Linked DNA regions of Homo sapiens. The protein of the gene in region 1 purifies or fractionates together with the protein of each later gene. This does not show direct contact. Each region holds a gene or a part of one and is shown in the gene's direction. Other genes may lie near its edges.

Evidence for each region.
Region 2: the proteins of FOXN1 (region 1) and NR2F6 purify together in Homo sapiens (affinity purification with mass spectrometry; one large-scale study listed by BioGRID and IntAct). This does not show direct contact.

The regions. Positions count from the first base shown.
Region 1 is NC_000017.11:28,512,848-28,516,347, forward strand, and holds part of FOXN1 (forkhead box protein N1), read left to right. Parts: intron 1-3,500. UniProt on the Homo sapiens protein: Transcriptional regulator which regulates the development, differentiation, and function of thymic epithelial cells (TECs) both in the prenatal and postnatal thymus.
Region 2 is NC_000019.10:17,239,420-17,242,919, reverse strand, and holds part of NR2F6 (nuclear receptor subfamily 2 group F member 6), read left to right. Parts: intron 1-2,154; coding exon 2,155-2,249; intron 2,250-3,500. UniProt on the Homo sapiens protein: Transcription factor predominantly involved in transcriptional repression.

The DNA.
Region 1 (3,500 bases):
AAAGATCCCTGGAGGCCGAGGATGCTTAGGTGGGAGGTCTCTGTCAAGGAGCATCTAAGGAGTAGGAAGAACCCAGTAGGGCTGATCTCTCAGACTAGCAGAGGAGAGAAGGGGTCCTAGTAGGTATGTCTCAGAAAGGAATGGATGGAAGCTTTGAGGGGTAGCATTTCTTGTTTCCTTGAAACCAAACACCCCTTTCTTTCCATCTACAAAATAAACATCCCCAGCTTGGCCAACATGGCAAAACCCCATCTCTGCTAAAAATACAAAAGTTAACCAGACTTGGTGCTGCCCGCCTGTAATCCCAGCTTCTTGGGAGGCTGAGGCAGGAGAATCGCTTGAACCCAGGAGGTGGAGGTTGCAGTGAGCCAAGATTGCACCACTGCACTCCACCCTGGGTGACAGAGTGAGACTTTGTCTCAAACAAACAAACAAAAAAAACCAGAATAAACATTCACGGGTAGGTCAAGGACATCCATCCATCTATCCCACTAAATATTCATCCTTTACACTACAGATACTCACAGAAATAAAAATACTTAAAATAAAAAAATAAAACATTCATCTATCTGTCTGTTGATTTGTCCATCTGTCCAGCTTTCCATCCATCAATCTCTCCATCCGATGATCTGTCCATTCATCCAACTGTTCATCTTTACATACATAAATACATCTATCTATCCACCCATCCATCCAGAGAGGTCAGGCTCTAGTTGGCCTCCCCAGGGCTGCTAGGAAGGGCCTGTGGTCCTGTGGCATTTATGGGGCATGTGACCTGCCTGCCTGGCCTGGGGAGACAGCCCCGCCTCAGCCCTCGGGCAGGGGGCCGGTCCAGGCATGTGGGAGTATTTATACCTCGATGGAGGCTCCTGGGGAGCTGCAGGCTGAATGACTCCCCGAAGCGGTGATGGTGGCCATGACCCAGAGCCCACTGTGAGTGCTTGGATTTGGCTCCTTTGGGGCCATGGCTGGGTGGCAGAGGTTAGAGAGGGGCTGGAGAGACGGGAAGGTGCCCAGAGGCAGCCAGGGATGGCGAAAAGGAAGGGGTGCTGGGCAAAGGAGAGTGGGAGACTGGTTGCTGTTGGAGTCAGGCATCTGAAGCAAAGCTGGGACCCTCCCTGCAGAAGGGATGAGTCTATTGCCCTTAAAGAGGCTCTGGTGGGTGGCTTGGTGAATGGCAGGAAGGACAGGACAAGAGGACTAAGATTACAATAAATAGGGATTAGAGATCTGGAAGAACCTCCAGGTCGGCCCAAGGCTCAAGTGCTTTTCCAGGATGGGCGTACTAGGCAATGCTCTGGGACCAGCCTGCTTCCAGAGGCACATGGGAATGCTGAAGAGTCTTTAGGAGAAGCCTGATTTGGGGACTGGAATGACTCAGCTGCAGGTGTCGGTGGCTCACATGGAGGAAAGCGTCACCTGGGGGACATGGTGGCTTTTCATCCTTTGTTCTCCCCACTCCCCTCCCTGCCCATTCTGTCCCTACCTGCTCTGTACTTGAGTCAGATCTCAAGGCAGGGGCACGCAACCCATTTTCCGAAACTGATGCTGGGTTAAGAGCCAGGGAGGCCAGAATTTTGCCCTCAGAACTTCCAACATTGATGGGGAGAAAGGAGCTAGAAACCCCCTCTTTCTTGGCATTCCCAGACCCCGAGTTTCCTTGGGTGCCCAAGCCTCAGGCAGAGCCCCCAGGTCCTTCCCTGCCACCCCCATAATTGCCGAGCTGCTCCAGGGGACCCCTCCCAGCAGCCTGTCGGGTGGAGCCCTGGGTGGGGCTACAGGCCAGCACCCGGCCGGCCGAGCCCCACCCCTCGTAAAACATGCTGCCGCAGCCAGCAACAGAAACCATTAAGGTGGAACTGAGCCGTCCCCACCTCACTCATAAAGAGTGGGTAGGAGGCCGCCAGGTGGGAGGCAGCAGGGAGCGTGAAGAGAGCCTGGGGAGGACCCTTGGTGCCCCAGGCCTGTCTGTCCCTGTGATTCAGTTGCCCACAGGGGAGGCAGGGACAGACCCTCCCAAGGAAACCTCCAACGTCGCCCCCACCCACCTTTCAGGCTTGAGCAGGGAGGCTGAGGCGTTACCAAGGTGGGGCCGTGTAGCGTAATGGTTCAGCATGCTGGCTTTGAAGCCCGGGTTGGAATCCTGGGGAGCATAATATACTAGCTGAGTGAACTTGGGCAAGTCAGGTTAACTTCTCTGAGTCTCAGTTTCCTCATCTATAAAATGGGATGATAATACAGCTCCTCCTTCCTGGGGTGTAAAAACTCAGCCAAGTCTTCCTGATCTCCTTGAGGATGTCCTCAGGGGCGCCCCACATAAAGGCAGAGGAGGGGTGAGGTCCCTGCTGACAGCTCTGTGGGCCAGATACACCTTTACAGGGTACATATCTCCACAGGGTACACACCTCTATGAGGTACACACCTCCACAGGGTACACACTTCCACAGGGTACATACCTCCAAAGAGTACAGAGTACATACCTCCACAGGGTACACACCTCCACAGAGTACACCCCTTCATAGGTGTACACATCTCCACAGGGTACACCCTCCACAGGTGTGCACATTTCCAAAGGTGTATACACTTCCACAGGTGAACATACCTCCACAGGTGAACACACTTCCACAGGGTACATACTTCCATAGGTGAACATACTTCCACAAGTGTACACCCCTTCACAGAGGTACACCCCTCCATGTGGTACATGCTTCTACAGGGTACACACTTCCACAGATGAACATACCTCCACAGGCTACACATCTCCACAGGTGTACACCCCTCCAAAAGTATAGACTTCCACAGGTGTACACACCTCCACAGGGTATACAGTTCCATTGGTGAATATACCTCCACAGGTGTACACTCCTCAACAGGTATACACCCCTCCACAAGTATACACACTTTCACAGGAGTACACCCCTCCACAGTGTACATACCTCCAAAGGTGAACACCATTCCCCAGGTGTATACACCTCCACAGATATACATACCTTCACAGGCGTACACACCTCCACAGGGTACACACTTCCACAGGTGAACATATCTCTACAGTGTCCATACCTTCACAGGGTACACATTTCCACAGGTATACCCTCCTCAACAGGTGTACACCCCTCCACAAGTATACACATTTCCACAGGGGTACACACCTCCAGAGGATCCATACTTCCACAGGGTATACAACTCCACAGGATCCATAACTCCACAGGATACACACCTCCACAGGATCCATACCTCCACAGGGTACACATCTCCACAGGGTACACACCTCCACAGGATCCTTACATCCACAGGGTACACATCTCCACAGGATCCATACCTCCACAGGGTACACACCTCCACAGGGTACACACCTCCACAGGATCCATAGCTCCAAAGGGTACACATCTCCAGAGGATACACATCTCCACAGAATCCATACCTCCACAGGGTACACACCTCTACAGGGTACACACTGCCACAGGATCCACACCTCCACAAGGTACACACCTCCACAGGTT
Region 2 (3,500 bases), on another chromosome or scaffold:
GAAGCTGAGTTGGGCCATGGGGTTGGGCAAAAAAGCTTGCACTCTTTAGGTGGGATAACAGGAAGAACTTAACTGTTTCCCTCCTTGGAGGGATGGATCTGTCCCAATTCCACAGCTGGGGAAGTTGAGACTGAAGGTTCAGGGCCTCCCCTGAGGTCAGGGGCCCCTGAGCTGGGCCTCTGCCTGCCTGCAGGGCCGCCCCAGGCCAGGCCGTTTCCACCCGGCTGCCCTGGACCCTCCCACCACCCAGCCGCTGGGCTTTGTTCTGGTTCTGCCTGAGCTCCCTCTGCCCTAGTGGGGCCTCTTCCCAGGGGCTCAGTGGCTGGTGCTGCAGGACCCAGGCAGTGGTGGAGGGGGGGTACGGGGGAGTGGGCGCAGATCCTCAGCTTTCCTAAGTTGGGTTCTCCGGCTGGGCTCTGGGTCTTGGCACTGTCCCCCGTGAACCCCTCTGACCCAGTCCATCCCATATGATAGGGCAATATCTGACCTCCCATTTTCAGATGAGGAAACCGAGGCTCAGTGGGGCAGTCGCCACCTGAGGGGCAGGGCTGGGTATCTGCAGCTGAGATTCATCTGTTTTGTTTTGTTTTGTTTTGTTTTTGAGACGGAGTTTCACTCTTGTTGCCCAGGCTGGAGTGCGATGGCGTGATCTCAACTCACTGCAACCTCTGCCTCCCGGGTTCAAGCGGTTCTCCTGCCTCAGCCTCCCAAATAGCTGGGATTACAGGCATGCGCCACCATGCCCGGCTAATTTTGTATTTTTAGTAGAGACAGGTTTTCTCTATGTTGTTCAGGCTGGTCTCAAACTCCCAACCTCAGGTGATCCGCCCGCCTCGGCCTCCCAAAGTGCTGGGATTACAGGCATGAGCCACTGCACCCAGCCTTTTTTTTTTTCTTTTTTTTTGAGACAGAGTCTCACTCTGTCACCCTGGCTGGAATGCAGTGGGTCAATCTTGGCTCACTGCAACCTCCACCTCCCCAGTTCAAGCGATTCTCCTTCCTCAGCCTGCCAAGTAGCTGGGATTACAGGCATGCGCCACCACGCCCAGCTCATTTTTGTATTTTTAGTAGAGACGGGGTTTCACCATGTTGGCCAGGCTGGTCTTGAACTGACCTCAGGTGATCCACCCTCCCCCGCCTCCCAAAGTGCTGGGATTACAGGCGTGAGCCACTGCAGAGATGCATCTGTTTAATTCCCTTAAGTGGTGGTTCTACTCTGTGACTGTCTCTGTGTGTCCCCTGGGTGTCCAGCTGGAACCCCAGGGGTAGTTGCTCCAGGCCCAGGCCTTGGAGAGCCCCCAGCTCCTGGTGGCAAGAGACCAGGGGAGTCCAAGGGCAGGGGCCAAGGGGAGAAGGTTCTGGGGACATTTGAAGAATAAGGCCTGGACCTTCCTGCTTGGGGGCTGACCCAGGATGGGGAGCTCACCACCTCTCAGGGTGGGGCCACCTGTCTCATCCCTGCAAGAGGCAACGGCATTCACTGAGGGCTGACCAGGAAAATCTCCAGCTTGCATAGGGGTTGGGTGGTCCTCTCGGAAGAGCGTAGGTGTGGGGCCTTCAGGGCTGAGGACCAGAGTGACTTTGTTTACTTCCTCATTCCTTGGGGTGGGCATTGTGCGGGTGATAATGCTGGGGCCCCACAATGCTATGACCCCACAGACCACTAGCCCCTGGCCTGACCCCTAGTTAATTCACAAAGTCCAGCTCTCTGACCATGTCCTCTTTGCCTTCACATCTTTTTGGGGACAATGACCCTGCTCAGCCTGACAGTGACCAAATAAAATGAAACTCTTTAGGCCTCCATATTTGTGTATTTCAACCCTTTTGCTCTGGCTGTACCCTCTCTCTGGGATCACCCCGCCATTCACCTGGAGAACTCCTATTCATCCTTCAAAACCCATGCCAATGTGCCCTCCCTGGGGTGTTCATCTGCTTTTCCACAGATTCCTCTTCATCCATCACCACTCATCCGGGTTATCCTGTCTGGTTTGCAGACCTGCAAGCTGAGCTCCTGTACCCCTTTGGGGCTACCTCTCCAGTCTAGAGGGCCCCTACTAGTATTTCTGAGGGGCAGCCTCCAAAGGCGGCTCATAGGCTGGTTCGGGGAGGAGGATATGGGGGTCTCAGGGAGCCCTGGCTTCTGTGTGCCCCCAGGTCCAACCGTGACTGCCAGATCGACCAGCACCACCGGAACCAGTGCCAGTACTGCCGTCTCAAGAAGTGCTTCCGGGTGGGCATGAGGAAGGAGGGTGAGTACGTGCTGGGGACACACTGGGGACGATCACAGCCGCTGGAGCCGGGGTGAACAAACAGCTTCTTCCTCCCCTTTTTCCCCTCCCTTTCACCCCTCCCTTTCACAGGGGTCTGGGTGCCTCACAGGGTGGGGGCCGGCGCCTGCTAACCTCATTACCACTGATCCCTTGATCCCGTGGGCTGCAGTCTGGCCCTAGGCTGGAGGAATCCAATTAGGATCCGTGGCCCCCTGGTTGCTGCCGTGGAGCTGAAGAGGCCAGGGACGCCCCACAAGGGACTTTCCCCAGCCCCATTCTCTTGCAGGAGCTGCCTTCCCCAATTACCCCCGACTCCAGCCTCAGAGGCCAGTTCCCTGGCCCTGACACCTTGGTGACCTCTTGTCTGCTAGCGCGGCCACCGCGTTCTGAACAAGGATTTTTTTTTTTATTTGATTTGTTTCTCCTCCACCCTTCACCCATGCTTTTTGTTTGCCCAAGGCAGGAACTCTGCCCGATTAAGGCAAAGGGCAGCTTACCCTTTCTTCTGACCCCGGGCGCTGGGAGCAAGAGTGAGGCCCAGCTGTCTCTGCTCAGGGGACCCAGGTGGACGGGCGTATTCTGGGCTGCTGGGCCTAGAACTCTGCCAAACCCCCTTAGAATTCAAGTAGAACCCAGAGATTTCTGCATGGATTTCTGGGGTTCAGGAATAGAATCTAGCCTATTGGACGAGATCTCCTGTGCTGGGTTTCAGGTTCCTCTGGGGACTGTGTCGTGGGCCAGGCTGGCAGTTCTTTCTAATGTCTAACCTGAGCCTCCCCTGCTTTGAAGTTTTTTTTTCCTTATTTTCTTTATTTATTTTTATTTTTATTTGAGATGGAGTCTCGCTCCATCTTCCAGGCTGGAGTGCAGTGGTGTGATCTCAGCTCACTGCAGCCTCCGCCTCCCGGGTTCAAGTGATTGTCCTGCCTCAGCCTCCCGAGTAGCTGGGACTACAGATACGGGCCAACACGCCCAGCTAATTTTTTTTTTTTTTCTGAGACTGAGTCTTGCTCTGTCGCCCAGGCTGGAGTGCAGTGGCATGATCTCGGCTCACTGCAGGCTCCGCCCCCTGGGTTCACGCCATTCTCCTGCCTCAGCCTCCGGAGTAGCTGGGACTACAGGCGCCTGCCATCTCGCCCGGATATTTTTGTATTTTTAGTAGAGACGGGGTTTCACCATGTTAGCCAGGATGGTCTCGATCTCCTGACCTCGTGATCTGCCTGCCTCAGC